2 linked regions of the Homo sapiens genome follow. The protein of the gene in region 1 interacts with the protein of each later gene in a biochemical or structural test. Each region holds a gene or a part of one and is shown in the gene's direction. Other genes may lie near its edges.

What was found.
Region 2: the proteins of MATN3 (region 1) and COMP form a complex in vitro, tested with the Homo sapiens proteins (one study listed by IntAct).

The regions. Positions count from the first base shown.
Region 1 is NC_000002.12:20,010,603-20,014,511, reverse strand, and holds the start of MATN3 (matrilin-3 precursor), read left to right. Parts: upstream 1-1,843; 5' UTR 1,844-1,880; coding exon 1,881-2,103; intron 2,104-3,909. UniProt on the Homo sapiens protein: Major component of the extracellular matrix of cartilage and may play a role in the formation of extracellular filamentous networks.
Region 2 is NC_000019.10:18,789,431-18,793,339, reverse strand, and holds the start of COMP (cartilage oligomeric matrix protein precursor), read left to right. Parts: upstream 1-2,034; 5' UTR 2,035-2,070; coding exon 2,071-2,149; intron 2,150-2,404; coding exon 2,405-2,490; intron 2,491-2,726; coding exon 2,727-2,778; intron 2,779-3,225; coding exon 3,226-3,398; intron 3,399-3,909. UniProt on the Homo sapiens protein: Plays a role in the structural integrity of cartilage via its interaction with other extracellular matrix proteins such as the collagens and fibronectin.

The DNA.
Region 1 (3,909 bases):
ATCAGCATTCCTGGTTCTTGGGTCTCTGGACTCAGATTGGGCCTTATGTCATTGGCTCTCCTGCTCTTGGGCCTTCAGGCTTGGACTGGATTACACCACTGGCTTTCCTGGGCCCCCAGCTTGCAGACAGCAGACTGTGGGACTTCTCAGCCTTCATAATCGCATGAACCAATCCCTCATAATCTCAATTACTCCCCCCACCCTCTCTCTATATGTATGTGTATATAAAATTTATTGGTTTTGTTTCTCTCAAGAACCCTGACTAATGTAGGGTTCAAAGGCTTTGGGGATCATTCTAAAAGCAAGACGAAAGACAAATGTCCACCAGAGCTTGCAAATACTGTATTTATCAATCCCTCCTCTTCTTGGCATAGTTTCTTTCAAACTTCTTAGTGTCCTCTTCCCATTATTACAAACTTCTCGTTTCTTCTAAGGTCCTTCTAAATTGGTGAGTTCTCAGTGGGAGTTGAGTGACCTTTTCCCTCAGTGTGACTATCACTGCCCAATGTCATTGATACATTATACAACTCCCCATCCCCACTTCCCCTCAGCTCCTGTTAACCACCATTCTTTCTGTCTCTATGAATTTGACTACTCTAGATTCCCCATGTAAATGGAATCATACAGTATTTGTCTTTTTGTGACTAGCTTATTTCACTTAACATAATACTCTCAAGGTTCATCCATTTTGTAGCATCTGCCAAAATTTCCTCCCTTTTAAGGCTGAACAGTATTCCATTGTACGTAGATACTGCATTTTGCTTTTCCATTCACACAAAGAGAGACACTTGGGTTGTTTCCGCCTCTTGGCTATTGTGTATAATGCTGCTACCAGCATGGGGTACAAATATGAGAAGTGAGGTTTAGGATCGTGTGAGGAGGATCACTTGTAGAGGGAAAATAGTGAAATAGGACGACCAGATAGGCTCTGTTGGAACTCGCGCCCATTGTTTTAAGACGCAGCTCAAATGTCACCTGGTTTTAGAAGTCTTCCTGGTCTCCGCAGGCAGTCAGTATCTCTTTCCTAAATCCACCACATTCCCGTAGACAGACACCACATTTATGCAAATCTCCTTCTCACAGACAGTGAGTTCCATGGGGGTCCCCTGGCAGCCTCCAGCCCTGTACCATGCTAACTCTTCCGGAGAGGAAATGGGGCCTCGGGAGAGCCTTTGAAGCCTGTGTTGGTACAGGCTGTCCTTCCAGCTAACGGGGCTCTCTGGGGAATGTATGTTTGACTTTCTATTCCCGGTAATATAAGTTCAAATGTTTGTGGATATTTGAAGCTCGGATGAAAGCGTTTCTATTCATGCCCCTAGAATCTGTGAGGCCTTTTCTTTCTTTTTTTTTTTTTAAACAAGAGCCCACAGCAAAACTTGGGTTACTTGGCTGAGGAAAGGAATGTAGAGCTAGGAGCAGGGTTTCATCTTCAGCCCCAGTCGGGCAAACCAGTGGCAGAAGGGAAAGCAGAGCCCAGGGGTCCCCATCCCGTACCTGGGGCGCAGGCCCCGCTGGGGTGGGAGGGAGAGTGGAGGGCCGGGCAGGCTGCAGCCGCGGATGGCTGCCCCCCCTGCCCCGGTGTTACTGGGAGGACGGAGGTTGCGACAGCAGCCGAGCCCACCCAGTTGCAGCCGGCTCGGGGCTTAGGGCAGGGGCGGGAGGTGACCACCGCGCCGCTGGCCGCCTCGCCCAGACATTCCGTTTCTGCCGCTGGAATGCGCGGACAAGGCTCCTTGTTGGCCTTGGGCGGGGTTCGCCGGGCCGGCCTGGCGCTCGAGGCCCCGGGGCGGGGCGGGGCCCGAGGCCGCGGGACCTTTAAATCCGAGCCTCGCGTGGGCTCCTGGCCCCCGACGGACACCACCAGGCCCACGGAGCCCACCATGCCGCGCCCGGCCCCCGCGCGCCGCCTCCCGGGACTCCTCCTGCTGCTCTGGCCGCTGCTGCTGCTGCCCTCCGCCGCCCCCGACCCCGTGGCCCGCCCGGGCTTCCGGAGGCTGGAGACCCGAGGTCCCGGGGGCAGCCCTGGACGCCGCCCCTCTCCTGCGGCTCCCGACGGCGCGCCCGCTTCCGGGACCAGCGAGCCTGGCCGCGCCCGCGGTGCAGGTACAGGCGGGCGGCGGGAGGGACGCGTGAGCATCGAACGAGGAGAAGCCCAGGGCATCCACCAAGCGCGCTTCATCCCGGCCTCAGGCCGACCGTGGTGCGGGGGAAAGAGGCCCCTCCCGGATGAATCCTGTGGGGGAAACTGAGGTCCAGAGAAGGGGAGGGAGATGCCCAATATCACTCATGTGTCCAGGCTAGAGATGTGGGTCTCCTGAAGCTCTCACTCCCCTGTGATTCGGCCAGGAGCACAGGGCAGCTGGGGAGCGCAGGGGCTGCTGCCCAGCGGCTGCTGCTAAGCTCCGTCCCAGTCCTGACCTCTCCATTCAGTGAGCAAACCCTTCCTGAGACTCTGCTGTTAGTTCTCTTGGAATCTCTCCATCTCCATCCAATATCAGGGCGTGATCTTTCCTCCCCTCCCACAGTCCTCAGGCTGCCTCAGACTGGAAGGTAAGGGATGCGGGTGTGAGACCAGGAGGAGATCCGAGGAGCCGTAGGATACCCCAGGATCAAGACACTCTGGGTCTTTGGCGAACAATTCTATTTCTCTTTTTGGTCAGCAATTGATTCCTGAAGCAGAGCAAAGCTCATAGTGCAGCGAAGCGGGCAGGTCGTCTGACACAGCCCCTGACAGCACATGAAGGGAAACTGAGGCATATCAAGTTGAAGGGACTCTGTGAATCAGTATCAGAGGCCACAATAAAATTCAGGGCTCCGAAATCCCAAGCAAGGTCTCTTTCCACTGCCCCAGCCTACCAACCTCTTAATATGGTTTACATAAGATTGTATCTTCATTTCCAAAAAGCGCAGCTTCAGTCTTGCTAAAAAGAGTCTGTGCCAGGCCATTTCTGGGTATGCAGTCTCATTTGGCCAGCCACGCTGCATGCCTCAGGCTGATTTCAATTGTCTATCCCCTTCTGCATCTTTCTGGATAAGCTGAGAAGGAGCTCAAGGGACTCTTTCCTGACTCAAATACTCAGTCCCCGTATTTGAAGTGGCAGATTTGAAATGGCAAAAGCATTGCTGCTAAGGCAGGAGGTACCGGGGTCCACAGGGCTAGATTCAGCTGGTGGCTGGTTGCTCCAGGCCGGGAATTGAGGGAAAGCCTTTCTTCTGGAAGTTAATCTTACTCTAGTCCTGACCTGCCTCCCTCTGGGATGGGACTGGAAGAGGAAGGAGAGATTCAGCACCAGGTGGCCATGTCCCCCTAAGCTTTACTGGTCTTTCATTACCTAGAGTCCGAACCTGATCATGAATGATAACCCATTAATAAATGCGAGATTCCACCCTGTTCCAAATTATCTCCTTTTAGCAACCAGAAATTGCTAAGCTTCGCTATGGATTTTTATTTCTAGCAGGACTGTAAGGACTCAGTGGTATTATGAGTATGGGAACATTTTAGGAGATTCAGATTCTTTCTTTGTTCTTGGGAATCAAATTGCTGCTATTTAGTAAATGGGAGTGAGATTCAAAAACAACTAATGATTGATGCGGAGTACCAGTCAGGAAGGAACCAGATGTTCACAGAATTTTCTGCCACCATGGTCAAGCCTCAGGTATTAGTTTTCTATGGCCACTGTAACAAATTACTGTGAATTTAGTGCCTTAAGACAACACACATTTATTACCTGAGAGTTCTGTGGGTCAGAAGTCTGACCCTGGTCTCACTGGGCTAAGATGAAGGTGTCGGCAGGGCTGTGTTCCTTTTGGGAGGCTCTAGGGGAGACTGCATTTCCCTTCCCTTTCCACCGCATGAAGGCTGCTGAGTTCCTTGGCTTATGGCCTTTTTCTTCCATTTTCAGAGCCAGC
Region 2 (3,909 bases), on another chromosome or scaffold:
CCAACGGGCCAGGTTGGTTCCTGCCTCAGGGCCTTTGCCTATGCTGTTTCCTCTACCTGGAATGACTTTCTGCTACCTCTGCCTGGCTGTGTCCTCCTCATCATCCGGTCCTCAGCTTGGTGGTCCCTCCTCCTCCAGAAGCCCGCCCTGACCCATCCCCTTTCAAACAGATCAATTTCCTGGGGACTCCTACCATTGTCTGTGTGTCCCGTCACAGCCATGAGCCCACTGGGCTCCCCATTTGAAGGAGAGACTGGGTCTGGCTTCTTCACCCTGTGTGCCCATCACCCAGCACAGGAGACATGACACACAACAGTCCTTGATGTTTGTGAAATAATTATTGTGTCTAGAAATGTCCCCACCTCCAAGCTTCACATGCTTCCCTCCACCAAAACTGCCCTCACCTTTTCCCTCTGCTGATCCAAGTCCTCCTTTTCTTTTATGTCTGTCTCCTTGCTACCTCCTCCAGGAAGCCCTCGGTGACTTCTCTGTAGGCTCCCCAGAAAACATATCTGGCTCTGAGTCTAGATTCACCCCTGCCCTCGGGCAGTGGCCTTAGGCCAGTCACTTTTTCTCTCTGGGCCTCAGTTTCTCTGTCTATAGAATAGACGCTGTGAGTACTGGAAGGTGGGAGTGGAGAGTGTTAACTGATTGCAGGAGGTTAAGGGGTTTTGTAACTCCAGAGTGTGGCTGGCCAGTTAGCGGTAACTTTTATTTTTATTACAGGCTGTTCCCACAGCAGCTGGAGCACAGTTTGGAAGGTATGGCACAGCCTGGACAAACAGAAGCCCCGGACCTCCCCTTGCTAGAGCCCTTTAACTTGCTCCCCTCCAGATGGGGGCCTCACACCCCATTGCGCAGATTGGAAAACCAAGTGGGCCTGTCCCCTTGGACAGGGGTTGGGGCAAGATCCTGAACGCTGTCCCCTCCTCCACCAGCCGAGGGACCATGGGGAGGGGAGGGAACACCAGCAATGAGTTGGGTTGGGGGGAGTCATTTGCAGCCCTCCAGCGTTGGGGCCAGAAGCGGCCTCCTTGGACAGAGGCAGGAAAATTGAGAGTCCCAGGTCTCAACTGCCCCTCCCCTATTTTCCATTCATCATCATAATCATCATTACTATTAATCATTAATTAATAATTATTAACTTATTACCTCCATTGTGCAAGGGAGGAATTACGCCTGGGTAATTTTTGTACTTTTAGTAGAGATGGGGTTTCACCATGTTAGCCAGGCTGGTCTCAAACTCCTGACCTCAGGTGATCTGCCCGCCTTGGCTTCCCAAAGTGCTGGGATTACAGGTGTGAGCCACCGCACCCAGCAACTTACCCAGTTTTGAAGCACTTCAGGAGGAGTGGAGGGCCAGTCAGTCTGATCCATAGTGGGTGGACCTATTTTTTCAGACGCTGGTGACTCTGTTTCCCGAAGTGTGAGCTGAGAGCGTGGCCATGGAGCCTGCCTTGTTTGGAACTGGAACTCAGGTTTGGCATACAGCAAGCACTCAATCAATCAATCAATCAATGAGCTGAATGCTATGGCTGGATCCTGTAATCCCAGTTATGTGGGGAGTATCGCTTGAGGCCGGGAGTTTGAGACTACTAGCCTGCAGGACATAGCCAGACCCGGTCTCTAAAAATAAAAATAAAAATAAAAATAAATTAGCTGGACTTGGTGGTGCGGGCTTGTAGTCCCAGCTACATGGGAGACTGAAGCAAGAGGATGCGATACAGCCACACCCCGTCACACACACACACACACACACACACAGACGCACACACACAGTGAATGAAAGTGGGGGCAGTACCCCCTGACTCCCTGCCCCACCAGCTCTCTCCACAGACCCCGGGACTCAGTTTCCCCACCATGTCGGATTCAGCCGCGGGCGACTTCGCGGGGCATTCCGGGCGGGGACTTGAACGCAGGGGCCAGCGCCATCTGTTTACCTTGAGGCTGGACGTTGGGCAGGGCTGTGGTGGGCCGTCCCTGGGGCCGGCCGTGCCTTGGGGATAAATAGGCCCCGCGGGCCTCGTGGGCGGTAGAAAGCGAGCAGCCACCCAGCTCCCCGCCACCGCCATGGTCCCCGACACCGCCTGCGTTCTTCTGCTCACCCTGGCTGCCCTCGGCGCGTCCGGACAGGGCCAGAGCCCGTTGGGTAAGCCGCGTTAGCACCCGCGCCGTGCCCACGGCCCCACAACGGACTGTAGGACCCGTGAGAGGCCCGGGATCCAGGCTGTTTGGGGCTCACGGACTGTTCGTAGGGGACGTGCCGGGCGCAGAAAGCAGGTGGCGGGACCGAGACTAGAGGAGCGCAGTGGGGCCTCGGAGGTCCGGGTTCGCTGCAACGGTGGGAGTTGGTGGTGGGATTCCCCGGCCCCATGACGCCTCACCAGGTCCCCTGCCGCCGCAGGCTCAGACCTGGGCCCGCAGATGCTTCGGGAACTGCAGGAAACCAACGCGGCGCTGCAGGACGTGCGGGAGCTGCTGCGGCAGCAGGTGCGGGGCCCGGGTGCGGGGCAGGGAGTGCCAGGGAACGGAAGGGGGTCTCAGTTCCCAGCGAGGAGAGAGGAAGTACCCGAGAAGGTGGAGAGGAGATGGGGAGGGAAGGGGGTCGGCGGGTAGGGAGTCCTTGGCGAAAAGAGGCTGTAGAAAGGGACCCCGGGGTAGAGAGAGGGGAGACCCGAGGGATGAGGAGAGGTTGGGACCCCGCTGATTCCATCCCACCCCTGCAGGTCAGGGAGATCACGTTCCTGAAAAACACGGTGATGGAGTGTGACGCGTGCGGTGAGCGCGGCGGGGCGGTCGGGAGAGAGAAGAGACGGGAGACAGAGACACAGAGACAGAGACAGAGAGCCAGGGAAAGCTGGGGAGGAAAAGAGACGGAAGGAGATGGAGGCTGACGGAGAGGTGGACGGACGAACGGGAATGGGATGGGGTGTGTAGAAACAGAGACAAAAAGAGACAGAAGCGGTGAGAGAGTTTTGGGGAAGTGAGAGACGCCACGGGGCAGAAAAGCGGGACAGAGACTCAGAGAAGAGACCGGGGAGACCCCGCGGTCAGAGCGCGCAGCCTCTGGGGCGGGATCGCGGACAGCGCAGGATTTCGGGCCGCCCCGGGGCGGGGGGTGGGGGGGAAGGGGAAGCCTCCAGCCCCGGGGCGTGGCCATGATAGGCTCTGCCCCCGGGCGAGCCACCGATCAGCCCCGCCGCTTCTCCCCCCTCCCCCCCGCAGGGATGCAGCAGTCAGTACGCACCGGCCTACCCAGCGTGCGGCCCCTGCTCCACTGCGCGCCCGGCTTCTGCTTCCCCGGCGTGGCCTGCATCCAGACGGAGAGCGGCGCGCGCTGCGGCCCCTGCCCCGCGGGCTTCACGGGCAACGGCTCGCACTGCACCGACGTCAACGAGGTGCGCTAGCCCCGACACTCCACCGCCCTGACGACTCCCTCTACCGCCCCCCAATCTCTCGCCGCCCGGGAGACCCCTTCCTCCACTGGGAGTGTTCGCCCCGAAGAGCCTCTCACCTCCGGGGGCGCACGGCCAGACTACCTCCTTACCGCGGGGGGACGCCCAACCCAAGGACCATCCCCGTCACCACCCGGGACGCCCGCCCCCACAACCCCCTACATAGCTAGTGACGCCCGCCCCGACGACTCCCTCACCGCCAGGGGTGGTCCGCCCCAGCTACCCTCCTCGCCGCAGGGGATCGCCAGTCCCAACGACCCTTCCACAGCCAGGGAACGCACGCCCAGACCCCCCGCCACCGCCGGGCACGCACGCCCCGACGACCCCTGCCCCCCTCTGCTGGGGATGCCCGCCCTCATCCTTCCTCCCCTCGCCCATGAGGGAACAGCTCTCCTCTCCTCTCCCGGTTGCGCCCTTGCCGTCATCAAGGCAAAGTCGTGCCTGACCCCTGCGA